Regions from separate parts of the Homo sapiens genome. Here regions 2, 3 and 4 are each linked to region 1. Evidence: fine-mapped expression QTL. A gene starts in region 1. Each other region holds a variant in brackets. All regions are shown on one strand. Distances are between the middles of the regions.

The links.
Region 2: its variant is fine-mapped to the expression of TWIST2 in whole blood (TOPMed, PIP above 0.99). The same link has a PIP of 0.9 or more in neutrophils.
Region 3: its variant is fine-mapped to the expression of TWIST2 in fibroblasts (GTEx, PIP 0.93).
Region 4: its variant is fine-mapped to the expression of TWIST2 in whole blood (INTERVAL, PIP above 0.99).

What each region holds. Positions count from the first base shown.
Region 1 is chr2:238,843,731-238,851,834 of GRCh38, reverse strand. TWIST2 (twist family bHLH transcription factor 2) reads right to left here and starts at 3,750. Exons shown (of 2, transcript NM_001271893.4): 1 at 3,102-3,750. The coding sequence starts at 3,619. The coding sequence ends at 3,137. It overlaps LOC100287387 (a long non-coding RNA gene), which reads left to right and starts at 3,928. Exons shown (of 1, transcript NR_157851.1): 1 at 3,928-7,289. RefSeq lists enhancers at 2,239-2,749, 2,750-3,259, 4,793-5,303, 5,304-5,814.
Region 2 is chr2:238,905,954-238,914,057 of GRCh38, reverse strand. TWIST2 (twist family bHLH transcription factor 2) reads right to left here. Exons shown (of 2, transcript NM_001271893.4): 2 at 3,524-4,216. Among named protein-coding and RNA genes, the nearest start is that of LINC01940, 16 kb to the left of the region's middle. The variant G/A (reference allele first, on the strand shown) is at 4,775.
Region 3 is chr2:238,724,742-238,732,845 of GRCh38, reverse strand. All of the region lies in intron 1 of LINC01937 (long intergenic non-protein coding RNA 1937), which reads right to left. Among named protein-coding and RNA genes, the nearest start is that of LINC01937, 8.8 kb to the right of the region's middle. RefSeq lists an enhancer at 1,883-2,382. The variant A/G (reference allele first, on the strand shown) is at 4,631.
Region 4 is chr2:238,946,157-238,954,260 of GRCh38, reverse strand. No RefSeq gene overlaps it. Among named protein-coding and RNA genes, the nearest start is that of LINC01940, 24 kb to the right of the region's middle. The variant A/T (reference allele first, on the strand shown) is at 4,892.

The DNA of each region.
Region 1 (8,104 bases):
ATTTTGTAACCAAACATTGCTTATATTCCAGGGAGCTCAGCCTTTCATTCTACTTCTTCTAGGCAAGCAAAAGCTCCATTGGGATTCTGCATTTCTGTTCTTCTCCACGAAGAACTGATTTTCTAGCATCCTGAATACAGCAGTTAACAAACACCTATGAGAAGTAAATTTTCAGGAGGGAGGAAAAGGCTCACATATATTAGATGGTGAAGGGGTCATGCAATTTCTTCAAAGTAGCTAAAAGTTCTCAGAAAAAAAAAAGTTTGTTGAGTGAGGAAATCTACTGAAAATCTGTGCACACTATGCAGAAGTTAGAGAAGATGTTTTCTTTAACCACACAGCAGGGAACAGGACAAATGTCTGATAAGTAATGGTCACCTTCCCCCACCCTCCAAGCCAGGTGTCTGGGACCCTGCTCCGAAGACTCAGGCATTTAATGAGAATACTAAAAAAATCCTTTTGAGATTTTTCTATTAGATGAATCCAACTGACTGGACAAAGACACCTGATTTATTGTCTAATTGTGCTTTTAAATACCAGGCCAAAGAAGAAAGGCAGGATAGATATCGGCAGCACCCGCACTCCACCATCTCTTGCGTTTCTCTTCCTTTCAGAGGACAATTTAGGCTTTGTGCTGCTGTTGCTGTTAGTCTTGACAGTTTTCTTCACATACGTGAAAACATCCCACATCAAACATTAAAATCACTTACAATGTACTGAAATGTCTAGAGATTCTTTGCTGATGCATATAATTAATGCTTCTTAGAAATGCTACAAATAAAAACAAATGCTGTTTAGCAACATTTTCAGGAAATCAAACCAATTATAATCGTATTGATCTTATAGGGAATAATGAGTTAAAGACAAAAAGAATGACAAGATGTCTGCCTAACGTGCCTGATAAATAAAAACAAGGTGTGTCCAGAATCATTCATGGATAAAATTTTTCCATATTTCTTTTCTCTTCTTTTAGAGTATCTATTTAATGAAACTAGCTTGTTTGAACTACTCAGTTATAGTCCAGTATGTAAAAATAAAAATAAATAGGCTCCTTATAGATCATCAGCTCTCCCACTAACTGTGTAATTATCTATTATATTTTCAAGGGCTTTTTTCCAAACAAGCTCTTGGCACTGTTTTTATTTATTTATTACATGTATTGCATTTTATTTTTCTATAATCTTTAATGGTTACCTATGGCTGATTCTCTAAGTTTTGAGGAGTGCGATTATTTTTAAATGAATTTTAAATGTTCCTACTAAATTCTAGCAGCATCATATCTACTGGTATTTGTTTTCAGTAATTTTCTGGAGGGCAGTCTTAACGATAATTAAAGTGACATTTTCCTTAAACACGGCTCAATGTGTGTGTTTTTAAAAAGATGACATTCCTCATCTGTTTGTTCTTATTTCAGATGTGCTATAAACCATGAATGAGGTAAAGCATAAATGGAAGTAACTAATGGAAGCTCATTATTTAGGCAGCAAAAACCAGAATTAATGTATTACCCCACTGTAGCGTTTAGTACTCAGCCAATCCAAACTTTCCTAGAGAAATATGTGATTGAGACACTTTCCATCTGTTTTTGACAAAGACAGGAGAAGATTCCCACAAGTTATTTTCTGCTGAAAATTATTTTTTAAAAACTATACAATTATCATTATCTCAGGAGGCTCTGCAGCTACAGAATTTTCAGTGACACCAAAATAAAAGCTAAAAAAATGAAATAAAACCCACCTGTGCTGGATCAGCTTTTCGTGGCCTCAGCAACAACATTCGCAGATATTATAGAACCACATAAAAAAAGAAATAGATATGTTTGGGAGAATAGGCGGCCGGGTGCTCTTGATTAATCTAAATTCCTTCTGTGTGAAGTAGAGTCTTTTATAAAAACATCGCAAGATGTGCGAGGAACTAAAACATACTAAGGGGGAAGGATTTTTAACTCGGCCCCAGCAAAAAGAACTCTGTGCCCCTCCATGGCCCTGGATGGCGGATGAGAGAGGGGCTCGCCTGCTCACAGAGCCTAAGGACGGCGCCTCCGTGGCTCGAGCTTGTCTAAAGGGACTTGGAAGGTGTCTGGTGAAAAGGACCCGGTGCAGGACGCCCTAATCGCTCTTCCAGAGGAAACCAGAACTTGGAGTGCTCCTGGCAGCTGTGTCCCCCGAGCCTTCTCCTCGCGCAGGGCCCGGCGCGCACAGCCTCCCTGTCCCCCAGACCCGTTTCCCAGCCTGGACCCCTCGCCCATCCCTGCGGGGCTGGATGGGCGGGGCCCCTCCCGGGTACTCCAGGGTCAAGGTTGGGACTCAGGGCTCCCAGTTCCTAGGTCAGCTCCACCTGCCTGCGGGCGCCCTGGGGCTCCGCGCGGCTGCGTCGGACCCGCCTGCCTCAGCGCTCCAGGCTCTGCGCTCTCGGCCCAGGGCCCTTCTCGGGCACACCCGGCCCTGTGGCTGCTCTGGCCCCGAAGCGCAGGGCAGTTTCCTCCCGTCCTCCCCAGGCAAACCCTGGAGCCGCAGGCCCGCACCTCTACGCCCACTGGGCAGGCCAGGGCGCCGACGGCCGGGGACCCCAGGCGCGAGCAGCTGGGTAGATCTGAGTGTCCGCCCGACGGACGCGCTCTACCCTTGCCCAGGAAGAAAGCGAAGCCATTCGCCCGGCAACACCCGGCTCGGGCAGCTTCGCGGGCGGCCTGCGCTGCGGCGGACGCAAAGGGCAGCTGGTCCTCATATCCCAGTCCCCAGCCGGCCCCAGGAGGTTTTTCTGATGCTCGCTCCTTCCACCGCCAACCACGGACACCCACACACCACCGAGAATGAAAACTGCGACCATCTGTCTAAGTATCTTCAGAACCCGCCGGGGGAGTCACCGGTCCGCCGGTTCCCAACTGACACCCTCGCGTGGAAGTCTGCACTCAGGGGTGTCCCTGGGACTGTGAGCGTCCCGCCCGCCCGCCTTCCTTGCTAAGAGGAAAAGCGCACGGCATCCAAGCCCCCGCGGCCCGCGGGGCCTCGCCGAGGAGACACGAGCAGGCCCCAATGCCCCTGCGCCCCTGCCGCCCGCCCCCCGCAGCGGAGGGCGCCCGTCGCGCGCGCAGCACCTACCCTGGCGCGCCGGTCCGGAGGTGGGTGGCGCGGCGCTAGTGGGAGGCGGACATGGACCACGCGCCCTCCATGCGCCACACGGAGAAGGCGTAGCTGAGGCGCTCGTGGGCCACGTAGCTGCAGCTGGTCATCTTATTGTCCATCTCGTCGCTCTGCAGGACCTGGTAGAGGAAGTCTATGTACCTGGCGGCCAGCTTGAGCGTCTGGATCTTGCTCAGCTTGTCAGAGGGCAGCGTGGGGATGATCTTGCGCAGCGCCGCGAAGGCCTCGTTGAGCGACTGGGTGCGCTGGCGCTCGCGCACGTTGGCCAGGATGCGCTGGCTCTGCAGCTCCTCGAAGGACTGCGCGCTGGGGCTGCCCTTCTTGCCGCGCTTGCCCGGGGTCGGGCTGCCATCTTCGCTCGACTTCTTGCTGTAGCGCCGCTTCCGGCCGAAGCGCTTGGGCTGCCTCTCGAGCTCCTCCTCGCTGGTGCCCAGGCTGTCCACGGGGGACACGGGCGAGCTGGAGCCCTCCTCCATGGCGCCCGCCCGGCGCGCGTGGGGCTGGGGGCGCCGGGGCGCCGAGCGCGCGCCGCTGGCCAAGCCCGCGGTCGCCGAGCACACGCTCTCGGAGTTGCTGGAAAGGCTCTGATTTCAAGGCCGGCTTGTGCAAAACCGAGGTCTCCGGGAGAGGAAGTTATTCTAACTTTTTTGGAAACTCTAGCTGGGCTGGGTTGCTAAATAGTTGTCAGGAGCTAGGGCGGCGCGCTGATTGGCCGCGGTGGCCGGGGGCAGGACAAGTTCTGGGGCCTTCGCCGGCCGCCCCCGCCCCCCGGCGCGGCACTTTCAGTTTTGCCTCCCCCTTCGGCCCCGGCGCGGAGGGCATCCCGGGGGCCGGGTCCTCGCCCGCCGCCCGCGCCCCCACCCCGAACGCAGGGCACTCTCAGGCCGCCCCGAGCCCTAGGCCCGGCCAAGCCTGGCTTTGTCTACGCCTCAACGTAGAGATCGGCCCCCACTGGGCTTTGGGGGGTTCTCTCTCTGGGCGTGAGGGGCTAGAGAGGCGAGTCCAGTCCCAGATGCGCTCCCAGAAGATGAGGACGCAGCCAGGAGCCTCCTCGACCTGTGTGGGTCTTGGCCGCCCCCGGGCGCACAGCTAGTCTGCACCGCGGCCCGCAAGCTTAGGCCTGGGGTCTGGGGAGCTGCGCGGGCAGGGGTCTCGGTGTCCGGACCGCCAGTGTAAGGACAGTCGGGGCCCCCTGGAGACGCCCGTGCCCAAGGACATGCCGCCAAGATCCGTGGAGATGCCACCCTTCGGCCAGCGTGCGTGTCGGGGACCATTTCTTACCCTGGCTTGCTGGGGAGCCCCGGCCCCGACGCCCTTCCCGAACCTTCCTTCTAACAGCTTTAAAACAACGCCACAGCGAGCCTCTGCGGGAGCGCCCGGTACCCGCCGCGCCCGCCTGCCTGGCCCTACCCGGGTTGCTGGGCGCGGGTTGGGGCGCCTGCCGGCCCGCCTTGTACGGCCCCAGCCTCTGCGCTCCGCCTTCGCTTCGCGGGTCAGCAGAGGACGGAGGGCGCTCCGGGAGCTGCACGAGGCTGCCCCGGGCCCAGCCTCCGCTGCGCTGGCAGCCCGCGGGCAGCTCCGAGCAGGAGGCTCAGGGTGGCTGGAGTGTGGGGCCCGGCCTCGGTGAGCGACACCACGGACCCCGGCCCCGGGCCATCTGGACGGCGAGCGCGAGCGCGTTTGAAGTGGTTGGGGGGCTCTTTGTTCGCCAGGCCGCTCTGGCTCTGGGCCTGGAGGTGGTTTTTACGGCTTTGATGCCTTTGAACCTATTCCCAGGTGACCCGGGCTCAATTAGGCCCGGGCCTGAGCCGGGCTGTCAGGCAAGCCGCGTGATCAAGGGCGGGCTGGGCCCTTTTATTGAAGTTGAACCCGAGACCGGGGAGTGCTCGGCCTCCGCTGCTCCTCCGGCCGGCCAGGCGGGCCGCGAGGTGGGGCCCGCGGGCCACGACCACCGCGTTGGGAAACCCGAGGACGGCAAAGAGCGGGCCCTTCGCGCCCCTGTCCGAGGGCCCTGGCTCCGGCCGTTCTAGGGGACGTTTTACCAACAATCCGTCCAGGAAGGCAGAACGCCTAGGAGCGGGCCCTCGCATGCATGTGAGTCGGTAGCAGCGCCCTGCGCAGTGTCCGCGCACCGGACCCGCGGCTTCAGTTCGGTGCCTAAAGGTTCTGCAGAGCCACCGCACCCAGCCCCACCCGGCCTGACCGCCCTCCTTCCTCCGCGCTGGGAAGGCCCACGGCCCCTCTAGCCCAACAAAATAGCTTTCCAGGTCCCTTTCTTTAAAATTCTCAAATAAAAATTTAAGGAACGAGAGAGAGAGAGAGAGAGAAGCCAGGTCCCCAGCCGTCCTGCCGGTGCTGGGCTGCAGCCCTTCCTGGGGCTTCACGTCAGATGGAAAGGGCCTGTTTTTCCCGAACTGGCCTTTCCCTGGTTTCTTTGCTCAGAGCAGTGACAGTAGCGATTTGCTGCCCTTTTACCAACCCTGTGTGGGTCCAAGGACCCAGATCCAGGGACATCTTCCCTTTCCCAGATGCGGAGGGCTTTTACTGAGGAGAGGACCTGCCTGGTAGCCTGCTTCGCCATCCTCGTCTCCCTGTCTGCGTGCCCCTGTGTCACTCTGGCTCTGTCGGCGTGTCTCTTTCTCTGTCCTTTCTGTCTCTTTCTCCAGCAGAGAGAGTTCATAGTTTAGTTTGAAAGAAAAACAGCTCAGCTTTGGTCCTGAGCAGCCCAGGGCTCAGCCCAGCCCTGAAGACCAGAGGCCCCGGGGACGCCCTGGAAGGGCAGCGCAAGCTGGATTGCAGGCTCACCTCTGCCTGGGGAGATGGACCTGGAGGATTTCACCTGCGACCCCCCGGGGCGCCCTGGAGCTATCATAACCAGCAGCCCAGTTCAACCGTCTGGATGCACTTTCTTCATGGCGTGTCTTGTCTATTTTAAAATGCTTTAACAATGATTATAGTACTGGAGGCTGTGATACTGACGGCTGCCTGCGGAAAACCTTGCTTAACAGAATTTGGAGTGACTTTCTTATGCTGTATTGCCAGCCCCTCAGAGTCATTACCTGGGCAGTGACCCCTTGCATACATAGGAGAAGCTAAGGCACAGTGGCATTTAGCAGCGTTTCCAATGTCACCTGTATGTTGGCTGGGGAAGTGACAGCATTCCCCTCTTTTGAGGAGGGGAATTTGCTGAATTAAAACCCAAATGAAAATGTCATCAATTTGGGAAATAATACTCAGGTTATTGATTTAGTTTGAGTTTTTCTTTCAAAAATTAAGTCAGTGATAAGGCTAATAAAGCCAATTTATTAATAGCATAAGTAATACAATATATCTCTGTGTGAATACTCTTTGCAGGACCACCCAGGCTCACTTGGACTTCAGTAAAATATCACGCAACAAAGATTCACAGAAGTAAATACAGTTCTTGGGGTACTTATTCATTACTGAGTATGGAAAATCCTGTGAATGCTTCCTTTCATATATGTAAAAAAGTGTGCTTTGTTTCATGTGACTTTGTGTTTTTTAAAAAAAAATGAACTGGTGTTCTGAAAGATTCTTCTATTGCACATTTTCCTTAGGGCAGCAAGTAACAGAAGGTGATATGTTTTCACAGCAAATTTGCCAGCTATTAGATTGGCTTTAATCTTGCTGCAGTAGAATGACACTGCAGGGATTGTCACCTGGGGATAGTCTTCAAGAATAGCAGCCAGGCACGGTGGCTCGCGCCTGTAATCCCCCAACTCTTTGGGAGGCCAAGGCAGGTGGATCACCTGAGGTTGGGAGGTCGAGACCAGCCTGGCCAACATAGTGAAAGCCCATTTGTACTAAAAATACAAAAATTAGCTGGGTGTGGTGGTGCATGCCTGTAATTTCAGCTACTCGGGAGGCTGAGGCAGGATAATCGCTTGAACCCAGGAGGCGGAGGTTGCAGTGAGCCAAGATCATGCCACTGCACTCCAGCCTGGACGATAGAGCAAGACTGTGTCAAAAAAAAAAAAAAAGAAAGAAAAGAAAGAAAAAAGAATACGACGCAATTATACAGCCCCTGGGCTTTCTTAGGATAAGAAACTGTGTACTTGCTCAGATGTGAAAAAAATTTAGTAAACTCTCAGGAGCTAAATAAAGCAATGAATTTATACATTTGAATGCTGTTGTCGCTACCTTTTGTCAAAATGCCTGCACGGGTGAACCCACCTGAGCTCTTCAGCAGATCCTTTTGTAGTTTAACTCTATGAAGTTCTTGTTGGAGCAAGAGACAAAAACCAAGATATCGTTAAAGGTCTAGTTTCCATTCCCAGTGACATGGTGGGTTGTTACCTCCACTTGAATTTAGTGAACTGAGAGCAGATGACAGAGCAGCCCATATTTGTGTGACAGAATCAATCCAACAGATTAATGAATCAATGACATTGATCCGGGGGTTGGTAACAGCATCTCCCAAACAGCACTTCCTTATTTGCAAAGCAAATAGCATTGGCGCAGTAGCAGTCTTACACTAACACAGCGCTCCACTGACACTTTTCCATCAAACTAGTCTTGGTGCCTTCATTTTGAATTATTCTCTCGTAGACTGAGATGACAGTGAACATGACCCATTATTTTAAGAAACCACAAGTTTTCAGAGATGGACTCTTGAGAATTATCTGACAAAGTTTTGGCATTTCTGTGTAGATTCTAGGGGTCTTCAGCATCATGTTGCTGAATGCTAGAAATATGCTGTCTGGGAAAAAGCTATCCTTGTGCCATGTATTGTTGGCTTTATTCTGGCAATACTTTATGCCTACCTGCAACCACCTGCCACCCCCCAAGATTTCAATCATCCAGCACATTCCCCAGTGTGATAGAGCAGCGGTGAGGGTTGGGGGTCACTGTAAAAGCATTTTTCAGTTCTAAAAACCAGGGTTGAAGATGCTTCTCGAATCTAGTTGTAAAGTGCAATGTATTCTTGGTGATGGGCATCA
Region 2 (8,104 bases), 62 kb before region 1:
GGGCAGATTGCCTCTGTACACGTTGGCCCCTACGTGTGGCGGCCCACAGGCATACCCATGCCACACACAGTGAGGTGTTCGACGAGCCTCCGATGGCACCGTTTCTATGACTGACAGCCATTTTCATGGCCCTGCAGGTGCAGGATAACACAAGGCTGCACCTGGCCTCTGTAGCCACGTGGAATATACTGCCTCTCCCCAGGACCCACCCTGCCCACCCAGGCCTCACTCTTCCAGACAGCCCATCCCCACTCTGCCTTACCCAGAGGCTGTCTGGTCTCCTGTGAGGGTCCCCACCTCCTCTTCTGGGGTGCTCAGGGCTGCCAGCAACCCTCCAAACTATGTCACTCAGAGCCACACAGCATCCTGCAGATGGCACTGGGGCTGCAGGGAGACGGCTGACCTGGGGCTGAGTTCCCGTTGCCTCTTTGCTGCCGCATGACTCCCGGCTCCCATGGGGCCTGTGTTCCATCAGCTACAACCTGGAAGTCCCACCTCTGTCTGCAGTCACTTTCAAAATCAAAGAGTGAGACTTTTCCATCAAGACGTGTTGGTCTTGGCCACTGCACAGGCCCAAGGCTGTGTTTCAGACCTGAGGCTGAGGACCTGCAAAGGAGCCCCCGCCCCCAGCATGTCTCGCCCTGCGGGGAAATTCAGACTCAAGGCCCCCACCTGCCTGGCCAGCGGCCCTCCCTCAAGGATGGTCTGCGATGCCAGGGCCTGGCTGGGTGCAGGGGTCCCGGCAGTGCTGCCGCCCCCTCCAGGTCCCCTCACCCCACATGTCTGCACCCAGGCTCCTCAGGCTGACCTGGTCACCTGACAGCTGGGGACTCCGTCGGGCTGCCTTTGAACACAGGCGGAAGTGAGATGGGTTTGGGGTAGGTTTTCCTTTAGACAGCCCCTGGGGCTCGGAACAGTCTCCTGTTCTGCGGACTCACCAGTCATCTGACCCTGAAAACATGTGCACACCAGCTCACTCAGGTCTGTTCTCAGGGCCGTGACTGCAGAGGGCTCTGGTTGACCCCAGAGAAGCTGTGAGACCCCAGAGCAGGAGCCAGCACAGGGAAGTGGCCCCACGACATGCCTGGGGAGGAGAGCCAGCAGCAGGTTATGGGAGAGCAGGTACCTGCGTCCATAGTCCATAGACATGCATCACACACATGCAAATACACGCGTGCCAGCGTGCGTATGGAACCATAGACACACACACACGTGTTCCGGAAGCCAGCGTCTTTCGGCACCTCTTCCAGGAATGTGTGTGTGGGGGTGAAAACAGGAAGTGAGCCCGTGTCCACAGCCGCGTATTTCCACGTAGCCTAAGGTGTCGGTGACCCGCTCCTTGGATGCCCAGAGTTGGAGACAAAAGCCCCAGGAGAGACCCCAGGAGAGGCCAGGGCTGGGGGAGGAGGACACCCTGATGTGGCTACCAGAGTGTGCAGCAGTTGGGCTGGGAACAGGCAGCAGGCGGTGATGCCCGGAGAGGCGGCCGCCGCAGGGAGGCCCTGGGATGACCCCCCCGGCTTGGTCACTGCTCTGAGGCCCCCACTGAACTCCATCCCTGACCTCCCACGTGGGGCCAGGGTGCCCCCTCATTTGCACGGGGCCCTTTCATTCCTTGCCCCTTCTGCCTGGGGCTTCGGTGTGAGCACTCACAGGGCTGGGTCCCCCACAGAGGTGACAAGAGGCTGTTGCTCACCAGGAAACCAGGCTCAGGGCACCGGGCAGAGGAATAACGAAGTTTTCAACTTGGAAACCAAGAAAGAGGCTCCTCTGGCCCCACTGTCCGCCAGCTTTGCATTACATGACTTGGGATTATTTCTATTTGAATCACGTCAGGAGGGAGGGCACCGTGGCCTTCATAGTCTTCGTGGCCTCCACGGGCCTCAGCAGAGCATGCCAGACAGTACTGGGGAGGGCAGGGCCTTTCACTGCTGGGACCACAGCTGCCCCATTCTATCTCCCCAGAGTCTCGTGTGTGCACATGTGTGCATGTGTATGCTGGTTGTATGTGCATACATTCATGTGACCTGGGTACGTGTGCGTGTGTTTGAAGTGTGCCAAGTGTGTTCACACGCATTGTGTGTGTGGTCTGTGCGCCTGCATGTGTGTGTGTGATGTGTGCATGTGTGTGTGGTGTGTGCATGCGTGTGTGTGGTGTGTGCGTGTGTGTGGTGTGTGTGCATGTGTGTGTGATGTGTGCGTGTGTGTGGTGTGTGTGCATGCATGTGTGTGTGGTGTGCATGCATGTGTGTGTGATGTGTGCGTGTGTGTGGTGTGTGTGCATGCATGTGTGTGTGGTGTGCATGTGTGTGTGGTGTGTGTGCATGCATGTGTGTGGCATGTGCATGTGCGATCTGGGCGTGTGTGTGTGTGTGTCTGTGTGCTTGTTGCATGCAGTGGGTTCTGGCGCTTGTGCTTCAAGGATCTGTGACCTAGACAGGCGCTCCCGGTGATGCCAGCCCCAGTGGAAGCCAGTGCTGCATCAAGGTCACCAACAGGAGCCAGATGGAAGCTGAGGCCATGCTGGTGTTTCCGGAGCTCCTGTCCTTGCCGTGGTGGACCTGGGGACAGGGTGGGAGTGGGAAATGAGGCTCGCAAGCCACCACCATCCTGCCAGAGACCCCTACTTCCAGAACCTCTGTCTAGGAGCTGGGTGGGCTCTGTGTGTCCACTGCTTGGTGGGCAGCTCCACCCAGCAGACCCCGGTACCAGATGTCCCCCAGGAGACATGCGTTTGGTGGCTCAGGGTAGTGACCTGGTGACTCTCAGTCTCCAGAGCTGGAAGCCTCCACCCTGGGGTCCACAAGCAACACCCAGCCCCCAGTGCTCATGGGTGCTGGCATGGTAAGGAGGTAGCGGGCAGGGCATAGAGCCCTTGCCCTCATGCAGAGGTGCCCGCCTGCACCAGACCCAGGCTGACTCTCCTTGATGGCAGATCATGTTCCTTCTGGGATTTCTGGGCAGGATGCCAACCTAACCTGCACACCCAGGTGCTCCATTCTTAGCCAGCTGCCTGGTGAGCTCATGGTCAACATGGCACGGATGCATGTGGAGCAGACGGTGACTCGTTCAGAGAAGCAGGGAGGTGGTGGCACAAATGAATGCCATGCTTGGGAGAGCAGGGAATACCACCCAGGGTGAGCAGCAGGGAAGGCTGGCCCGGACTTTGGACAGCAGGGGTGGCTCACAGAATGGGCACGCTTCTGTATCAAGAGCGGGGCGTGGGTGTGACAGCAATGGTCTCTTGTGCTGAGGCTGCTGGGGAGCAGCAGAGGACTAGGCACTGGGAAAGGGCTGAGGCCCCCTCTGCTCTCCCAGGCCTCGGTCTGTTCACACTGGCAACCATGTTAGAGTTGGTAGTTTCTAGAAATTTCTACAAACATGCACAGCATAAAATGTCTCACATCCTCTCTCGTGCCTTTTAAAGTGAAGTAATAGTGATTCTTGCAACCTGTTCTGACTCTCTCAGGCAGAGCCCTGAGCTGCGAAGTAGAGATGAGAACAGAGATGGGGAGACCATGGCTGCGCGGACGTCTTTATTTTTCCTGGGTGGGGAGCAGGATACACAGCCACACTGCAGTCACTTAGCTTGTAAAAATATCTCAATAAATAAAACAAACAAGCAACATATACACTGAACAGAGAATATTTTTTTTTAAATGGCTAGCCAAGCAATCACGGAGAAAGGAAAAGAATAGCGGCGTGAAAGTAAGAATTCCAGGCTGACTTGAAACAATCATGCAGAGGCTCGGGGGAGGGGAAGGAACTCGGGGGTCCTCTTCTGAGAGCCTTGGTCCAGTTTCAACAGAATTGTACAAGAATGCATTTCTGTTTTATTAAAAAAATAGACATTAAAAAAGGCACTTAGAGGGAAATACAAATTCAAAATCCAAATCCTCATAAATGTGTTCCTGAATCTAGACATTTTCAGAAAGAATAAACCTCCCCCCAAACATAAGACCCAGAAGAAAAATCCAAACAGAAACAAGATGACCATGACAATGTCACCAGCAAGAGGGCTGGGAGTGCCCTTCCTATGTGGGGACCGTCCTGGGGGAGGACGGGAGCCCGGGTCTTCTGTCCGATGTCACTGCTGTCCCTTCTCTCGACGCTGGTGGAGGGCAGAGGTGGGGGCCTCCTGAGGTTGTTCAGGTTTCAGAAGTTACAGACTCGAATGCATCCCAATTCCACTTGCGCCGCCGACGCGACGGACAGCCTGGAAGATACGGAAGGGGGACCGTGAGCTACGGCCGCCTCGCTCGGCCTCCTGCAGGATCGTCCTGAGACTGTCCCAAGGCTGGGTGGGACGGGACACGGGGCAGGCCCTGAGAGAGCTGGCTCTGTTCTACTCATGTTCCTCCCAAAAGACACTGGGCAGGTGACTGCTACGGGGCCAGCCCAGGCTTCCGCAACCCCTGCCCCCTGGGCCAGGCCAAGCCCTTTCCCTCCCCCGAGTGCCCTTTCCTGCCCCCGAGTGCCCTTTCTCACACTCACCACCCCGGGGCCTCTCCCTGGCCCGTGCTCAGCGCAGCCATGAATGCGGTCTGGCTGTGGGTGAGCCCCTCAGAACAGGCTGCCTGGGGACAAGAGAGGCTCGGCACGTTGGCCCCGTGCAGGCCCGAGGGAGCTGTGGGGTTTCGGGCAGCAGAGGGCTGGGTTCCAGCGAGGAGGACGCAGAGAAATGGGTCAGCCGCTGGCGGGAGCTGTCAACGGCGGATTCTTGCTTTAAAATGCGTGCTTTCAAAACAATTGCAGACACACGGGAAGTTGCAAA[G/A]ACAACACAGAGATGTCCCATGTGCCTTTCACCCAGTTTCCACACATACCACACCCACGAACACACCCCACCCCACATACACACACACACCAAACATACCACACACTACACACACCCCACACTACACACCACATACACATACCACACCCACGAACACACCCCACCCCACATACACACACACCAAACATACCACACACTACACACACCCCACACTACATACACACCACATACACATACCACAACCACGAATACACCACACCTCCACATACACACACACACCACACAAACATACTACACACTACACACACCCCGCACTGTACATACACACCACATACAAATACCACACACACAAACACACCACACTGCCACATACACAAACACACTACATACACCACCACACACCACACAAACACACCACACCCTCCCACACACAAACACATCACACACACCACACACCACACAAACATACCGCACACTACACACGCATCCCACTGTCCATACACACCTCATACACAAACACATACCACACACAAACACACCACATCCCCACATACCCACACACACACTGCACAGCACAAACACACTGCATACTACACACACCCCACACACTGCACAAACATACCACATACATATCCACACAGACAACATACCATATGGTATATTATATACCACATTATATGCCACACATACAGTGGTGTCGTCACGTCACACCCAGGCATCTGGCACCAGTATGGACCAAGAGCTTATTCACATGTCACTCGTGTGGGTGTGTGTGGTGTGGGGTATGTATGTGTGGTATATAGTGTGTAGTGTACATGGTATGTTGTATGTGTGTGCATGTGTGTGTATGTGGTATGTGTGGTGTGTGCAGTGTGTGGTATGTTTGTGTGGTGTGTGGTGCATGTGGTTTGTGTTTGTGTGTATGTGGGGTGTGGTGTGTTTGTGTGTGTGGTATGTGTGTGTATGTGGTGTCTATGTACAGTGTGAAGTGTGTGTGTAGTGTGTGGTATGTATGGTGCATGGTGTATGTGGTGTGTGTTTGGGGGATTGTATTTTGTATGGGGGGTATATGTGTACAGTGTGGCGTGTGTATGTGTGTGTGGTGTGGGGTATGTATATGTGGTATGTAGTGGGTAGTGTGTATGGTATGGTATCTATGTGTATGTGTATGTGGTATGTCTGTGTGTGTGGTATGTTTGTATGGTGTGTGGTGTATGTGGCGTGACTTTGTGTGTGTATGTGGGGGTGTGGTGTGTTTGTGTGGTATGTGTTTGTGTATGTGGTGCGTATGTACAATGTGGGGTGTGTGTGTAGTGTGTGGTATGTTTGTGTGCCATGTGATGTGTGTTTGTGTGTGGTGTAGGTGGTGTGTGTTTGTAAGTGGGGGTGTAGTGTGTTTGTGTGGTGTGTGTGTATGTGGTGTGTATGTACAGTGTGGGGGTGTGTGTGTAGTGTGTGGTATATTTGTGTGGCGCGTGGTGTGTGTTTATGTGTGTAAGTGGGTATGTGGAGTGTTTGTGTGTTTTTGTGTGTGTGTTGTGTGCGTTTATGTGTGTGTTTGTGTGTGTATTGTGTGCATTTGTGTGTGTGTGTGAGTGGTGTATGTGTACTTCCTGCAGTTTCATCATGCGTGTTGTTTCTTGCACCCCCCACTATGATCAAGACACACAATTCTTCCAGCCCCACAAGGTCCCCTCATGCCACACAAGTGACTTCTAAGCGCACTTGTGGGCCAATCAAACTGTGGGTGTGCCAGGCTTGGTGCAGCTCTGGGGCTGCAACCAGCTGTCCCGGGAGCGCCTTGGGGAAAGAACCCGCTCAGGCGCTACCCAGAGCCTGGTTCCCACCTGCAGGGGGAGGAGACACAGGCAGGAGGAAAGTCCAGGTCCTCCAGGAAGCCGGGGTGGGGACCCCAATCCCGCGCCTCCCTCTGTGCCTGCCAAGCTCAAAGAGAAGGTGCTGAGAGGTGGCCGGGGCCAGCGTCTGAGACCCAGGGTGTACAGGGATGTGGTGTCATAAGCCCAAGGTCTTGGGCCACCTCAGTGGGGCCCACAGGGCAGGGGACACGCCACTGGCATCAGCACCTGGTCGGGAGTGTGGCGAACACAGGTGGGCCCCGCGCCGCGCCTCAGGGCCGCTTCTGCCACACACCCAGGCCAGCCTGCAGCAGCCCCCAGGCTGTGTTGCTGTCCTGCCAGGAGACCTGAGCTCTAGCAGGGATCGCTGAAGACTGGCCCTGCGACCTGGGACCTTTACTGCTCACCACAGGGCCTGGCCGTGTAAGTGCTCACTCCCACACCTCTTGCACAAACATGAGAACAGCCAGTTGACCTGCAGAGCTCGCGGGAGGTGAGTGTTCAGCGAGAATTATTGGAGAACTCCCCTGAGCCAAGGGGCAAACCAGCGCAACGAGACCCTCCTCCCGCAGAGCGGCTGAGCGTGGTGGGAGGGGTGGGTGTCAGCCCAGAGGCAGGCATGGGCTCCCCAAGGCGGCCGCCAGGAGAGGGGTCACCGTGAGGATTCTGCCACAGGGAAGGAGGTCCAGGGAGGCCCCAGGCACTGGGGGGAGGATGTGGAAGCTGGAGGGACGGGTGACGTGGTGCTCGGTGACATCCCGTGTGTGTGTCTGTGAGTGTGCCCACTAGTGTGAGAGTGAGTGTGAGTATGAAAGAATGTCCAGAGTGAGTGTGTGTCCATGTGCAAGTTGTGTAAATTGTGTGAGCATGTGTATCGTGTAAGTTGGCCCGTGTGTGTGCCAGTGTGCATGCATGTGTGTGAGCATGTGCATCCATGAGTGGGTCTGTGTGTCCCTGTGGGAGTGTCAGTATGCATGTGTATGTGTGTGTGCGCATCCGTGTGAGTGCATGTGTTTTCCCGTGGAAGTGCTGGTGTGCATGTTTGTAAGTGTGTACATCCACGTGAGTGGGTCCGTGTGTCAGTGTGTGTGTGTAAGCATGTACATCCTCCTGAGTGGGTCTGTGTGTGTGTCCCTGTGGGAGTGTCAGTGTGCATGTTTTTGTGTGGGTGTGTGCATCTGTGTGCGTGGGTCCGTGTGTGTCCCTGTGGGCGTGGGTGTCTGATGTCGCACAGCAGTGTGCAGGGGGGACGTGTGGTTCCGCTCCTTCACCCCCAGCCCTCTCCCAACCCCCAGCCCCAGGCTTCACCCCAGCAGCCCAGGTCCTCAGAGACCTCCAGGAACCTTTGTTGAACCAAGGCAACAGTCTGAAAAAGCCAAGACGTATTTTCCCTGAAACCCATGCGTATGAAAACCACACACGCACACGCACACACGCGCACGTACACGCGCGCGCACACACACGCACACGTACA
Region 3 (8,104 bases), 120 kb after region 1:
AATATACAAAGAACTCTTAAAATTCAAATCTAAGAAAAGAAACAACTCATTTAGAAATGGACAAAAGACTTGAACAGATATCTCATGAAAAAAGATGTACAGATGGTGAATTAGTATATAAAAAGATGTTCATATCCATTTGTCACTATGGAATTGTAATTAAAACAACGAGACACCACTATTCACCTGTTACAATAGCTAAAATCCAAAAATCTGACAATTTCAAGTGCTGATGAGGGTTCAGGGCAACAAGAATTCACATACATTATTGGTAAGAATGCAGAATGGTACAGCCACTTTGGAAGGCAGTTGGCCATTTCTTACAAAGCTAAATACAGTCTTACCCTAAAATCCAGCAATTGTGCTCCTAAGTACTCACTCAATTGAATTGAAAAAGTATATCCATACAAAGACCTGCACAAAAATGTTTATAGCTATCTTATTCATAATTGCCAAAAACTGGAAGAAACCAAGATGTTCTTTAATGGGTGGTTGTACAAGCAAACGGGTACATCAATACAATGGAATATTATTGAGCAACAAGAAGAAAACCACAGAACTGTGAAGACAGGGAGGGACCTTAATTGCATATTGCAAAGTGAAAGAAGCCAGTCTGAAAAGGCTGTGGTCAGTATTTCTGTAAATCTAAAACTGTTCTAAAAAAAATGTGTATTCATTTTGTAAGAAGTTTTAAAAAAAGGGGAAAAAACCCAGAAACTTTATGAGGAAGTTATAGACTTTCCGAAACAGCATTAGATTGTCCCAGGGCTTGGAACTGGAGTTTGAGTCAGTCTTGCTCAACTCCCAGGTGGCTTCTAATTCACACCACAACCTTCTGAGACTAAGCGTTGGCTTTAATGCCCAGTTGTAAATAAAAGTCTGGAAGTCTGGTTACTGCACGCCTTTTCACCCAAGAAGTCCTCCAGACGACTTCCTTCCAGCTTTCTCAAATTCAGGGCTAAGTTGTAATTGTCAATAGATTTTACAAGTCCATACCTAGTTCTGCCTTGACCATACACTCACAAGCTCATCACTAGTGGTGCAGACTGCACAGTGCTTCCTAAGGCCATTCTCCACCTGCCCATTCCGTTCCCAGCATGCATTGTGCCTGTACCACTTCCTGAAAGTCTCAGTCTCCTTGCTCTTTCACCAAAAGTTCATTTATCTGTTTTTTTTTTGTCAACCTGAAATACTTTAAAGTGTAACATACAAACTGTAAAATACAGAATTTTTTTCAATGTTTATAGACATATAGGCATAATTTATATTATTCTTTGTGAGAAAGAGTCTTGCTCTGTTGCCCAGGGTGGAGCACAGTGGTGCAATCAAGGCTCACTGCAGCCTCAACCTCCTGTGCTCAAGGGATTCTCCCATCTCAGCCTCTTGAGTAGCTGGGATTACAGGCATGCACCACCATGCCCAGTAAATTTTTTTTTATTTTTTATTTTTTGCAGAGACAGGGCTTTGCTATGTTGCCCAGGCTATTCTTGAACTCCTGAGCTCAAGTCATCCTCAAGCCTCAACCTCTCAAAGTGCTGGGATTACAGGCACGAGCCACAGTGCCTGGACAATTTATATTCTTTATATGTAATCTTAAATGCATTCATTCATCTCAATGAATTTTTACAAATGAATAAACTCCTGTAACTATCACCAAACTCAAGATACAGCACGACCAGCATTCTGGTTTTTTTTTTTTTTTTAACTTGCCAGATGGAGATAGAATGTATCTTTCTCATCTCTGTTGTTTTAAGTTTTATGCACATTTCCAATGCAGTCCCAGCATTTTCAGCGCTCCATGTCTTGACTCACTGGCGTCCATTTTAAATGTTTCCTGCTTGCTGCCTGCATTGATTCAATGTTGCTTTTTACCAAAACAGAGGAACTATAGTAAACTTCTTCAACTTAGAGCCTTCTACTAAGGGGGCTGAATTTATTAGATTGGTGCAAAAGTAATCGCAGTTTTTGCACCAACCTAAGAATTTTATGATCATGATTGCCACATGGTTTAACTTCAAAGCAATTCTGTGCTTTTTGCAGAGGGGAGCTGAGGCTTCGTGGAGTTGAAGGTGAATTTCCCAGGCAGGCGGGAGAGACTGTACTGAGAGGGCTCCCAGGGAACCCAGCTGCATTCAGCCCAGCACTGTCAGCAGTGGAAGGACTTACCTGACCACCCACAGGGGCTTGCCTTCCACAGGCATGTTCTCACACTCCAGCCCGCGTCAGACTCACCTACAAGGCTCTTCATAGCACAGGCTTCTGGGCCCTATCCCCAGGGTTTCTGATGCAGTAGGTCGTAGGGTCTCAGATTTTGCATAGTTAACAGGTCCCCGGGTGACGCTGGTACTGCCTTTGGGGGACCCCACTCTGAGAACCGCTGTGTTGCAGCAAGCTGGGTCCCAGCAGCGATGTAGGGAGGGGCAGGCTGTGCTAAGCCTCAGCTAACAGAGCGGCCGTCCACGGCTCCTTCTGTCTGAGGTCCCTACTGAGGAGGGAAGGAATTCTTCCCAGAACTCAGCAACCCAGGAGCTTTCCAGGGCTCTGGGTACCTCTTCCTGATCCGTGGTTCTGGAAGACTTGGGGTAAGAAAAGTGCCTAGGCCGCGAGGTCCTAAGGCGTCTTTATGGAGACATTGCCTGGGATCATGGCCAAGGCTCAGGCTTCAGGGGCAGGAGCTCCAGGCTGGCCATGCACTAGTTATTGACCGGGCAGGGGCAGGAGCAGTGCTAGCATGGTGCCTGGCACAGAGCAGCTGTCATACTTTGCACACGTTTTGGCAGATTTTTCTTAGATGGTGGTATGGGGGTCGTTGAAGGAGCCCTCTTGTGTGCTAAACTGGGCTTGGACCACCTCAGCTCTCCTGAAAAATGGGCAGGGACTGGGAGCCTCATGGGTGTCATACTAAGTCTGACCCAATGACTGAGACAGAGTAAACAAGGGGTGGTCTCTCTGCCCCCTGAGTTCACCCTGTTACTAAGACCCTCGTCATATTGAATTTCAACGGCCTGGTCACCCATGAAGTTCTTCAGCTGGACCGGGGTTTCTCAATCTCGACACTGTTGACACTTGGGCCTGTATAATCCTTTGCTCTGGGGGCAGGGCTGTCCTGTGCATTATAGCGTGTTTAGCGGTATCCCTGGTCTCTACCTACTAGATGCCAGCAGCAGCTCCCTGACATCAAATCACAACAGCCAGAAATGTCTCTAGACGATATCCAGTGTCTCCTAGGGGCAGAACAGCTCCAACTGGTAACTGCTGAGTTACACTGGGAGCTCCCAGGAGGGAGGAACCACACCTTCCATCCCTGCACCTCCAGGACTAGCACACAGTAGGGGCTCACTAAGGGGACATCGAATGTATCCAACCTGCCTGGTCAGATATTCAGCATTTCATGCTCATTATGACATTTGAGTCTCAAAACCACCCGTGAGGAAGACTCATGTGAGAGATGAGGAAACCGAGGCACTGCAGGTGGGACCACTTGCTCAAGATTTCCTGGCTAATTAGCAACGGAGGCAGGACTTGAACTCCATGCTCTGTGCCTGACTGATTGGCCCTAAGACCAGGGTGACACCCTCTGTCCTACTGGCTTGCTTCCTCAGCACAACACCCTCTGTCCCACTGGCTTCCACAGCACAGGAAAGGAGCTCATGCCTGTGTCTGGACTCATGGCCTCAGGCAGGTCCCAATTTCTTTGTCCTTCCCCGCAGTCTCTCCACGGGGCACTTTGAATTCTGCCAGGCACAGCCTCCCAAGTTCACGTTGCTTTTTGAGGAATGACTTCAGCACTAAAACATGTTTCACATTTAAGGTTAGGCAGGCCCTGCTTACAGCGGGAGCTTACAAGATCTCCAGCCCTTCTGGGGAAGGATATAAAAGGCTGACTTGAATGTTATGAAAGCTTAGGAAAAAAGGAATGCTAATGATCATACAAAAATAGAATGCCAAAGGAAGCTATTGCCAAACTGAAACAGGACTCAGATTCTGGGATAATGGACACATGAATCACAGCAAAGGGAAAAAAAAGTGAACTGGCGTTTCCCCTTTCATCGAAGTACTGATGATCATAAGATAAATCATGTTTGGAGAAGAATCAGAATGATTGGATTAAGTTTTACTGCAGTGTTTCTGACTAATCTTGGACCCAGGCAACCTAATTGAAAACTTACATCTGCACGGAGCTGGAGAGTTTGAACTCTCCAGCTTTAGTAACTCACCGCTGCAAGGCAGGCCCAGGCCCGGGAGTGCCTTCCTCCACATAACTGCATCGTTCTGAAGACACAGATCCAAAAACTCGATTTTCCCACTATGATTTTACCCAGAAACTTCTCTGAATTCGTAGATTACAATCAGATAATGGTCCATGACGTGAGCATCCCTTTGCCTGGCAGGCTGAAAGTCAAGATAGCCCTAGCTCCAAGCAAGCATTCCTTTTTTTTTTTAATGAGAGAAAAGAGGCAACAATTTTTAAGTGACCTTGCTGTTTGCTTTTGTGAAGTGAAGTGATCTCCCCACTGCTGCGATTTTAATAAGCCCGCAAGTTCTCCTAGGTGCCCTCCAGGGAGGAATTTCATTGTTCATCTGCACTCAATGTTCCAGAAATACCCTGCACCCATGAGCAAATCCTAAC[A/G]TGACTTCCAACTTGGGAGTGGAATTTGCCAAATAAATGAGCTGTTCTAACTGAATGTCCCGGGCCAAGGCTGGCTCCTGTGACGATGCTCTCTGCTGGGTCTACAGGCGGACCCTGTGGTTGACAGGCTCCCAGATGTGCACCCCTGGGCTGAGCTCTGCAGCCCAATGCCCCTCCCATCCACTGAACAGACCTGGACCATTCCAGAGGGGCCAGCTTCCCTCTGTGACCCCCAGCCTCATGCTTCCAAAGGAGGGCAGGAGATGACAGCGTGTGGGGGCACAAGGGTAGAGAGCAGACAAAACAAGAGCTCACTGAGAAATGAGGCAGAGGTGTTGTGCAGGTGCCAAGGGCCTGGGTTTTTGACTCCTACAGAGCTGGGTAGGAACCCTGGTTCTTGTCTTTCCCAGCTGTGACACCCTCAGCAAGTTACGAAAACCATGCAACCTCCAGATATCTCATCCATAAACCGGGTGTTGTCATGAGAATGGAATAACACGATGTGCTTAGTAAAATGGAATGTCAATTACATCCACATCCCTGAACAAATGAGTCCACGAAAAGCATGGTGCAAGTGGAATCTATAGTCACGTGTAAGTCTTGTTATATGCAAAAGCATTACTCCTTGCTGGGAGTCTCTCTCCACAGGACTCGATGTGCCACACAGACAGAAACAGTCCCCGTTGCCTTGTCCTTTGCACCTAATGTCACACCGACACGGAGGAGATACTCGGTAAACATTTGTTAAGGAAAGAAGAGCTTGGCACGGGTTCCCTTTTTCTTCCACCTCAACCCCAGTGCTATCCTCAGGGACCCCTCATTCCCACCTTGCTCTGCACACATCTCACCTGGCCCTGGCCCTGTGCCCTCCTGACACCTATTTGGAACATTTCCCCAACAAACTTGGTATTCCAGACTCAGAAACCGGCTGTCGGCATTGGTCCTGCCACTGTCTGCCTGCCTGCTTCCGGGCATATTGCTTCACTGCTCAGAGCCTCAGTGTCCTCGTTTGCTCTTCCATGAGACAGTCATAGTGCGGGTTTGCAGCAGACCTATGGCTCTTGAACTGTACTCCACAAAATCCCACGTGTTTCTCCCGCCAGAACCTCTGGAGGCCTCATCTCTGGGACCCCACCCTTCACATTAGCCAAGGCACCCTACTTTTTCAGTGAGCAGCTGCTGAGAAAGATATTGCTTCATTTCTAGGTGAAGTTTCGTCCCTCTGGACTGAGAGGTTCCTCCTCAATTCTATCTGTGCTGCACAGGGCCCAATTTGGGACCATGAGGGATATGAGATGTCCCAGAACGAGACCATTACTTCTTTCAGGACAAGAGGTTAATTCAGCAATGGGGAACCCTGCTCTCTGTGAAAGGCTTCCCCACATCCAGAAGCCGGCCAGGCTCATGTTTCCTTGGGTAGCGAGACCTCCAGAGAGTTTGGGTCTTTCCTACAGGACACAGGCACATGCAGAGATGCTGGTCTGTTCTAAACTACCCATTCTAGGCCAGGCATAGTGGCTCATGCCTGTAATCCTAGCACTTTGGGAGGCTGAGGCGGGAGGATCACTTGAGGCCAGGAATTTGAGACCAGCCTGTGCAATGTAGTGAGACTCCCATCTCTACAAAAAAAGAAAAGAAAAGAAAAAAGTAGCCAGAAGTGCTGGTGTGCACCAGTAGTTCCAGCTACTCAGAAGGCTGAGGCAGGAGGATGGCTTGAGCCCAGGAGTTTCAGGTTACAATGAGCTATGATGGTGCCACTGCTCTCCAGCATGGGTTGCAAAGTGAGATCCACTCTCAAAAAAAGCAAATAAATAATTTGAAAACATATTAAACTTTCCTTTCAAAACATTCACCATCTCCTGAACTTTGTCTTCACCACTGCCCTAGAACACCTTGCCTACTTCTCAGACAGAATGAGCACCGTCTTGCCCACCCTCTTGCCCACACTTCCTGTCAAGCCTTACACTATCCCCAGCAGCACCACTGACTTCATCACAAAATTGAGTGGCCACACGCCTTAGACCATGCAGGCTACCATAATAAAATACCACAGACTGAATATTTATAAACAACAAAAATTGATTTCTCACAGTTCTGGGGGCTGGGAAGTCCAAAGTCAAGATGGATTTGGTGTCTAGTGAGGGCCCACTTTCTGGCTCACAGATAGCACCATCTTGCTGTGTCCTTACTGGGTGGGTGGGACCAGCTAGCTCTCTGGGGTCTGTTTTATAAGGGCACTAATGCCACTCATGAGGGTTCTACCTTCCTGAGGCAATCACCTCCCAAGGCTGCTCTTTCTAATACCATCGCATTGGATATTAGGCTGCAACATGAAACCTACATTCAGACCACATAGATCTGGTCAATATGGAGATGGTTTTAGACTGTTTATCACTTACACTAACGGCATAAGCAACATCATCATAATGTCAGCTTTCCACATCCCTAGGATGACACCAAATTGGAGAAGCCAGATGACAGACATGAGGAGTGGGTTGCTCCATTGGGATATCTCACTCTAAAATACAACCAAGCACCTTTATAGCTGGAGCTATGCCCTAAGGGGGGCATGTGGAAAGTTTTACTTCTCACTGGAACCAGGGAAGTGGATAAGACAGTGTCTTGTGGCAGCCCCTCACAAGACAGGGAGCCTCCTATAGGACAGGGAAGTGGATGGAAAATGACCTACAGATGACCCTTACGAGACTGCCCTGCTTGCTGAATCCCAGGAAGGATCACAGAGTGTTCTGCCAAGACATGGGTCCGACTGAGGCTGAGACTCACCTACGCAGAGACGCCCAAGAGCTCCATGGGGGAGCCTTTCCCTACTCTGTCCTCCTACCTTCCTTCTCATTGAGGACAAGGTGTCTGTCCTCTTGTCTAAGGAGAAACTCACCCTTAGAACCTTGGATTTACTAAAACTCTCATTGAAAACCTATTTAATCAATGATCATCCTCTCTTCTGAATCTCCTTCCTACCCAGCCCCTTAGCCACACCTACCTTAAAAAGCACATAATCCACCAAAACATATACCTCTAAGTCTCCCCTGGCTCCTGATCCTCTCTGGTCCTTTCTGAGTGAACTCTCTGACCATCCCCTGAGTGAATCCATTCACACCGCAGGCTCCAGCTGCCCTCTTTTTGCTGGAAATGCCTAACCTGACTCCCGCCCCGTCCTCCTCCAAGCTGCTGCCATGGAACTCTTGCTGATGGAGTTTATCCACCTGAATGCCAGAAAGGCATCTCAGATCCCATGAGTCTGTGCAACAGCCGCGTCTCTGTCCCTTGAGCCTGCTGCTCTTCCTGCCTACACCTCCAAGAGCACGCTTACAGAAGCCAGAAATTCGGCAGGCAGCCTAGACATTCTTCTCTTGTAGCCCTGACATCCAGTATTTATTTAGGGCTACGCTTTGTTAATTCTTAAACATATCTCTTTTTCCCCCTGTACTTCCCTTTAGTATCACCATAGTTTTT
Region 4 (8,104 bases), 100 kb before region 1:
AGAAACAAAGGATTTTTCAACTCAACAAATTACATCTACTAAAAATCTACAGCTTATATAATTTACGTTAAGGAGGCAGAATGCGTTCTCTCTATGATCAGGAGTGAGGCCAGGGTGTCTGCTCTCACCACTTCTGTTGGACATTGTGCTGGAGGCACTGGCCAGGGCAATGGGGCAAGGGAAAGAAATGGAATTCATACAGGTTGCAAATGAAGAAATACAACTGTCTTAATTCACAGGTGATAAGATCTTCTATAGAGAAAATCTGAAAAGATCTAGTAATAAGCTATGAGGAGAAATAAGTAAGTTTGGCAAGGTTGAAGAAGAGCAGGTCAAGGTTCAAAACTCAATTGTATTTCTATACACTAACAAGAATTAAATGGGAATTGAACTTTCTCAGAAACTATCATTTATAAGAAAATAAAAATACAAAGTACTGTAAAATTAGTATAACAAAAAAGTACAAGACTAGTGCACTGAAAAAGAAGAAAAATACACAGAAATTAAAGATTTATCTCAATAGAACATTATATCATGTTCATGAATCAAAAGTCTATACCATTAAGATGTCAGTTCTCCTCAAATTGATCTATGATTAATGCAATCCTAAGAAAAATTCTAGCAGCTTTCTGTTTTGTAGAATTCAGCAAGCTGATTTGGTATTTATAGAGAAATGCAAAGGATGGGCAATAGTCAAAACATTTATTTCTTTAAGTAAAAAGAGCAAAGTTGGAAGACATATGCTACCTGATTTCAAGGCTTTGTATAAAACTACAGATATCAAGGCTGTGCAGCACTGGCATAAGGACAGCTGTGTAGATATATGGAACAGAACAGAGCCCAGAAAAACACTCGAGCATATGTGGTCACTAGATTTTCAACAGAGGTGCCAAGATAATTCACTGGAAGGAAGGACAGCCTTCCAGCAATGGTGCTGGAACCATGGGTATATCTGTGTAAAATAAAAGAACCTCTACCCTTACCTCACACCACATACAAAAATTAACTTGAAGTGAACTGTAAACCTAAATATAAAAGCTAAAACCCTAACATTTCCTGTAAGAAAACATAGGAGAAACAGATGATTAGAAAAAATTTCTTATTTAGGACATAAAGTAGGCCAAAAAAATTGATAGATTAGACTTTATGAAAACTAAAAAGATTTGTTCCTTTCAAGGCACTATTTATAACTTTAAGATGGATGATGCATTCTTGAAGAAAATATTTTCACATCTATCTGATTAAGGACTCACATCCAAACTATATGGGACTCTTACAAGTCAATATAATAAGAAGACAAACATTCTGATTAAATAAATGGGGAAAAGATTTAATGCACATTTTACTTAAGAAGGTATATGAATAGTTAATAAGCACATGAAAAGGCTCCCAACTTCATCAGTCATTAGGGAAATGCAAACTAAAACCACAGTGGGATTCCGCAGTGTACTCACTAGAGAGGCTGGAATTAAGCAGACAGACAGTACCAAGCGTGGGTGAGAAAGTGGAGCAACTCTACCCTCCTGTGTTGCTGGTGGAAACACAGAGTGCTACAACCCACTTGGAACCACAGCTTGGCAGTTGCTTATTTACAAAATGATCTGGCAACTTCACTTTTATGCACAAAAAGATATTTATGTGAATGTTTATAGCATCTTTATTGCTAACAGCCAAAAGTTGGAAGCAACCAAAATGTCCACTGACATGGGAACAGATTAACAAATTGTGCAGTATTTGTACAATAGAATGCTGTTCAGAAACAAGAAAGAAACAATTATGGCTGCGTGGAACATCATGCATGAATCTCACAAGCATAAAGTGAATAGAGGAGTCTGATGCAAGAGAGGAAACAGCACATGATTTCATTCTTAAAACTCTAGAAGAGGCAAAACTGCAGCACCAGGGAGAAGACCGATCACTGCCAGGGCTGGGTGGAACGGGATTGGCTGCAAAGGAGATGAAAGTACTTTCTGGAATCATGAAATTGTTCTGTATCTTGATTATGCCCAAGGCTATACTCCTTTAATTGTATACCTAAAATCGGTAAAATTCATTGAATATAAATTATAACTCAATAAAACGGATTAAAAATACATCAAGGAAGGACATATCAGCCAAAACAAGCAAACATGAATTTCGAAAACTATAGAAAATAAAATGAAAGTCACAGTTAAAATTCATTAGATGGGTCCAAGGGAAACCTATATTGATAATAAGAATCCTTAATGAAAACACTACCTGTCACACACTTTTTTGTATGAGCCTTGTATAAATCAAACACACTTAGAAATGCGAGAGCAAATAGAAACTCAATTTTTGTGACAAATTTTAACACAGATCTTCTGACCATGCGGGCAGATCAGGAGTAAGAAAGGGTGCACTTATTTCCAGAGATATGTTGGTCGGGTCGAGGAAAGCCATGTGAGGCAGTGGTTCAGCACGTGGGCATTTAAAACCAGATAGAAGGCCTGGTTTTAAATCCACTTTTGCCCTTGATTTTGAGTGTGTCACTGGACAAGTTTCTTAACCTAAGTCTCCGTCCAAGGTGTTAAGTTCATGGAGTTAACTGAGAAGATCCGTAAGAACAGCCCTATTGAATAGCAGCTTCAGAAAGGCAAAGAATATCACCCTTGTGATTCACTGCTGCATGCCTGGCACAACGCAGGTGCTCAAATGTTGTCTTGAACAAATGGGTGCGAACATCATCTTCCTGGCACCAAATAAACCTTCAATAAATTATACTCAGCATTATGCTTGATTAGCAGATATTTAACTTCGTCTCTAAATTTTCTTTTTAAGCATTCATAGAATGCTTACCAAAAAAATTCCCATACCACGGGAAAAGAAGCTTTAATTAAGTCCAAAAGATAGACTTTATAGCAACATATTTCACCATAACTCATTAAAACAAAAAATCAGCAGTAAAGGAACAATCAAGAAGAAAATTCACACAGCCTTGGTAATTGTGAAAGTGCTCTCCAATGATGTTTAAGAAGTTTCACAGGGTCTGGTCTCTTATTTGTCAATTCTTATTTTTAATGTGTATCTTTATTTCCTATTATTTGAGCAAATGGTTTTCTTGTCATTTTAATCTCTGTTCTCTTGCTCATTTGAGATGCTTTATCAGGTTTGTTCTTCCCTCTCAGGATTTAAGTTTCTTTTCCTGCATTCATTCACTCAGCAAACACTGATGGAGCCTCCCTGCCCTGCCCAGTTCACAGAGCTTTGCTTGTGATCTTTGTTGTCCAGGGAGGAATTTAGATGGTGTCCTCGCCCTTTCTTTCTGGGGCTGCCTTCATTCTGCAGGGGCGGGTCCCGCTGTGTGCAAGCTCCACCATCTACGCCAGAGCAAGGGCTGGCGGCAGAGCCCTGGCCTGGCATCTGGGAGGTGAGATCTTGCCTGCTCCCAAGCTGGGGACTTTGGTCTCCCCAGCAGTCATGGAGAGGCTGAGATTCTTCTGCAAAGGAAGCTGTCCCTCCAGGTGCCCGCCTCACAGCCCTTCCTAAAGTCACGTGACGCACCAGGAGGGAAAAGCCCAGCTCCTTTGCTCAACCCAGCAGGGTCCAGGCTTCGGTGGTCCCTTGATGGACCGGAGGAGGATGGAAGCTCTACATCGGGCAGCTGGGGGCCTCCCAGGGTGAGCAGCCAGTGGGGTGAGTGGGAGCTGCTCCTCCGTCCTCCGGCTCAGTATGCCGCCTGCAGTGTGCGCAGCTCGGGATGACGGCTCAGCACATTTCTGTTGATGGCAGAATCAGCATCTGTCCCATACTTTAGTAATTGGCTCTTCTACCAAGTTTTAGTGTGGTTGGCCAGTTTTTGTGTTTTGGTAAATTTTCATCAATGTTTTAACTGTAAGCAGGAGGCAGCTCAATCTGGAGCTGTAGGCTCTCCTGAAGGTTAACCCTGGGCCTTGCCCCTGTCTCAGATGGACTAACTGAGGGCCAGAGAGGTTAATAAACTTGTCCAAAGCCGGAGCTGTTCGCCAGAGAAAGCCCACTCAGGATCCAGGTTTCTGCGTCCGAGGCCAGCGGGCTTCCCAGGAAGTCATTTTGCTCCAGCAGCCCTGAAGTTCAAAGACAGCCCCATGGGGGGTTTATCAGGGGCCCCCTTCCAGGGTTCAAGGGGTGTCAGTGAGGGCATCTGCTTACATGGTGGCCTCAGGGACCAAGGGCATACCAAGCCTGCAATGCCTGAGGAAAGGAGTCCCCTCTGCTCTTCCAGGCAGTGGGCATGTGGGGCCCACGGGACCAAGGCAGATTCTGAAACGTTGGTCTTGGACACAGGCCAGAAGGACAGTTGGCAACCTGCAGCATGTGGTTATTAAGATCCCATCTTGCAGCACCCCCAGACAGATAGTGCGCCCCAGTTGCTCCAGTAAAGAGATCTTCACAACCCAGGCGTTCAACTGCATCCCAAAGGCCACCACTTCCAGCGAACCTTCCAGGGGCCCAACTGATGCCTGCAGACACCAGACCTGGACATGCCAGGAGGAGATGTCATGCTTAGGGTCTTTGGGAGCTTCAGGAGCCAAAGAATCCAGTATAGTTACCCTGGTGAGAATTTAGGACTGGGTTTGGTTTTGAATTTTTTCTTTTTAAGGAAGACACTTTTTTATTGTATTGTTTGAACATTGAGTCAGCTGGGAACAAAGGAATGCAAGTTTGTCCTAAACAGGACTGTCTTCCGGCAGGAAAAGCACCCAGGAAAAGTGGCCACAGGGTTTTAGCTGCGGGGATGATCTTAGAGGAAAGAAACACAGTGAGCTATGCTGGTGCACAGCCAGGCTGGATGCAGAGTGGAGCCGTCCCTGCCAGGAAACCACCTGGGAGACAGTGCTCCCTCACCCTGCAGGTGGCTTCCAGGGGGAGAATCTGCCCCCTTCAGAATGGC[A/T]TGAGGATGGAATCCTGCATAGCACCAACAGTGACCAGCCTCAGGCATGGGTGCAGGGGTGAGCTAGCCTCATCCACAGCTTCCACAGTGAACTAGCTTTATCCACACACAATGATGACCTACCCTCAACCAAAGCTCCAGGGGTGAGCTAGCCTCATCTACACGCAATGGTGAACTAGCCTCATCCATAGCTTCCACAGTGAGCTAGCCTCATCTGTAGCTCCAACAGTGGGCTAGCCTCATCCGTACATTGATGGTGAGCTAGCCTCATCCACAGCACCAGCACCAACAGTGAGCTAGCCTCATCAGTGGCTCCAACGGTGACTAGCTTCATCCACAGCTCCAGAAGTAAGCTAGCCTTATCCACACACTGAGGGTGAGCTAGCCTCATTTGCACATCAATGGTGAGCTAGCCTCAGCCACAGCACCAATGATGAGCTAATCTAATGTCGTGCAAGTGTTCAGTCCAGACATTCTGATCCCTCCTCAGGGATGACAAATGGAATACTGCACACAACTTACAATGAAAAATCACCCAATTTTTAAAACTCAACAAATTTTTAAAGTGCTTTTACTGGCCACATACAGAAAGAAACAGTTTCACAGCAAACCTTGCTCCAGACTGCTGTGGTAAAGGATGGAGAGGTGGGGACAGGAGTGGAGGAGGGAGTGGGATGGCCATAGGAGGGGAGGGGAAGCTGGGTCCAGCAGCCCAGGATGTGGTCATGGTGTGACTGGTGCTGAGTAACTGGGAGGACTCAAGAGTGACGATGCCTGGACATCCTTCTATCTCTGACTCATGTTGGGAAGGTCTTTCAAACTCTTTTCATCTTGCAGAGAGGCAGAGCATTCTGGAGACCAACACTTCCTGGGCGGCGCTCAGAGTGGGTGACTCTGCAGAGAGCACCTGCCAGGTGTGATCTCGGACTCAGAGTTCAATCTGCATTTAGCTGACAATGAACTGCAAACTCTGAAAATGTTCACAGCCATGGAGAATAATCTAGAAATCCTCAGTCCATTGGGAAACAGTGTGGGTCAGGGAGTGTAACCAACAGCTGGAGGTGAAGCTGGGACCAGTCAGTGAGGTTAACCACACCAGGGAAGAGGAAGAGAAACCAGTCAGGGCCAAAACGGAGCTTTCATCGATGTCTGAGGGGGCCTTGTCCATCCTGTTTGTGGATTTGGTTGTGTGTGCCTGGGTATTAATTTCTTAGGGCCACTGTAACTGCAAACTGGGTGGCGTAAAATGACAGAAACTCACTATCTCACAGCTCTGGAGAACAGAAGTCCAAAACTAAGCTGTGGGCTGGGCCGTGCTCCCTTGGAAGGCTTGGGGAGGCTCCTTCCTGCCTCTCCCAGCTTTGGGTGGCTCCGCCCCTCCTTGGCTGGTGGCTGCAGCACTCCAATCTCTGCCTTCTGCTCTGTCTTCACACGGCCTTCCCTCTGTGTCTCTGTGTCCTCTTCTCCTCTTATAAGGACAACAGTGATGAGATTTGAGGCCTACCCCGCATGCAGATAATCTGATCTCAAGATTATCACCTTAATTACATCTGTAAAGACCTTATTCCTAAATAAAGTTGCCCTCTGAGTTCTGAGTGGACATGAATTTGCAGGGCAGGCTACTCTTCAACCCACTATGGTAAGTACCTAATTTGCTGCATATCTATTTTACCTGTATTAGTACTGATGGCAGTGGCTGTGCCACGCGGCCTGCCGCTGCCATCACATCAGCTGCAACAGGGAGGTGCAGCTGGGGTTGCACATTCTGTGGAACCAGCGGGAGCTGGAGACAAGTGAGAGCCCCACCTCTTCCAAGTTGGGATGGGAGCTCCCCAGGTGCTGCTGCAAACTCTGCCCTAAGCACGGCTGCCCAAAGCTGCAGACCCGGGCCTCCCGCTCCACTGAGCAGGCAGGGGCTCTGCCCTCCTGAGAGGGGGCTGCAGCCACCCAAATTGTGGCTGCAGACCTGGGCCTCCCGCTCCACTGAGCAGGCAGGGGCCCTGTGCTCCTGAGGGGGGGCTGCAGCCACCCAAATTGTGGCTGCAGACTTGGGCCTCCTGCTCCACTGAGTAGGCAGGGGCTCTGCCCTCCTGAGAGGGGGCTGCAGCCGCCCAAATTGTGGCTGCAGATCTGGGCATCCCGCTCTGCAGAGCAGGCAGGAGCCCCGCCCCTGCCCCAGGCACAGCTGTAGCCACCCAAACTGGGGCTGCAGACCTAGGCATCCCTGCACTCTTGGGGGGGCCTGGGAAGGCACTCTTGAGGGGGCCTGGGAAGGAACCCTTGTCCTTGCAGGCTCAGTGGTTTCTGGTCCTGCTGCCTAGCCTCTCCCCACTCCTGGCACCCACTTTGATCTCAGAGCAGAGGTGGGGCCAAGCCCAGGCACTTTCACAGCCCAACCAGGTGTGCACACACTTGGGGCAGTGCTGACATGCCAGCCCCCTGCCCCTTCAGCCCCCTCTGGACTTTGGGCACTGAGGAGCATGGGAGGAGAAGCTGAAGGAGAGTTGAGGGCAGCTGGGCACTGGCCTGCAGGTGCCCCTTGGTGCCAGCAACCTGGGTGCCATGAATGGCCACGGGAGGCAGACAGGCTCCTGGGCAGAAGGGGGAGGGTCCCCAGTGAAGCCCCAGCTTCAGGCCAGGGCAGGCATAAAGCCTGGGGGCTGGGCTGCCAGTTCTGAGGACCAGAGGGGGACATCATGGTGCTTTCTCCTGGGCCCATGCATGGCTGCCTGTGGACCAATCAGCATGCACTTCCCTGCTCTGAGGCCCAAAAAAGCCCCAGGCTCAGCCAGAGCAGGACAGAGGACAGAGAGATGACAGAAAGGATGGATGACTAGCTGCAAAGAGGAGCTACCATCTCTGCTGATAGCGGCAGACAACAGGATAACCAGCTGCAGAGAGGAACCGCCCACTCCAGGGCCTCCTCTCTGCTGAGAACTGAACACTCAACAGGACGACCTTCCCACAGAGAGGAGCTACCCACTGTGGGTCTCCTCTGAGCTATTCTAACACTCAATAAAACTCCTCTTCATCTTGTTTACCTTCTACTTGTCTGTGTACCTCATTCTTCCTGGACACAGGACAAGAACTCGGGCAAAGGTACCACTGGCCACAGAGGTTTCTGGCCAGAAAAGCAACACCCTAAAGATCCCATAACAGACCAAGATGGAGAAAGTGGTACTTACTCAATCTTTTCTTAGGGGACATCGTTTA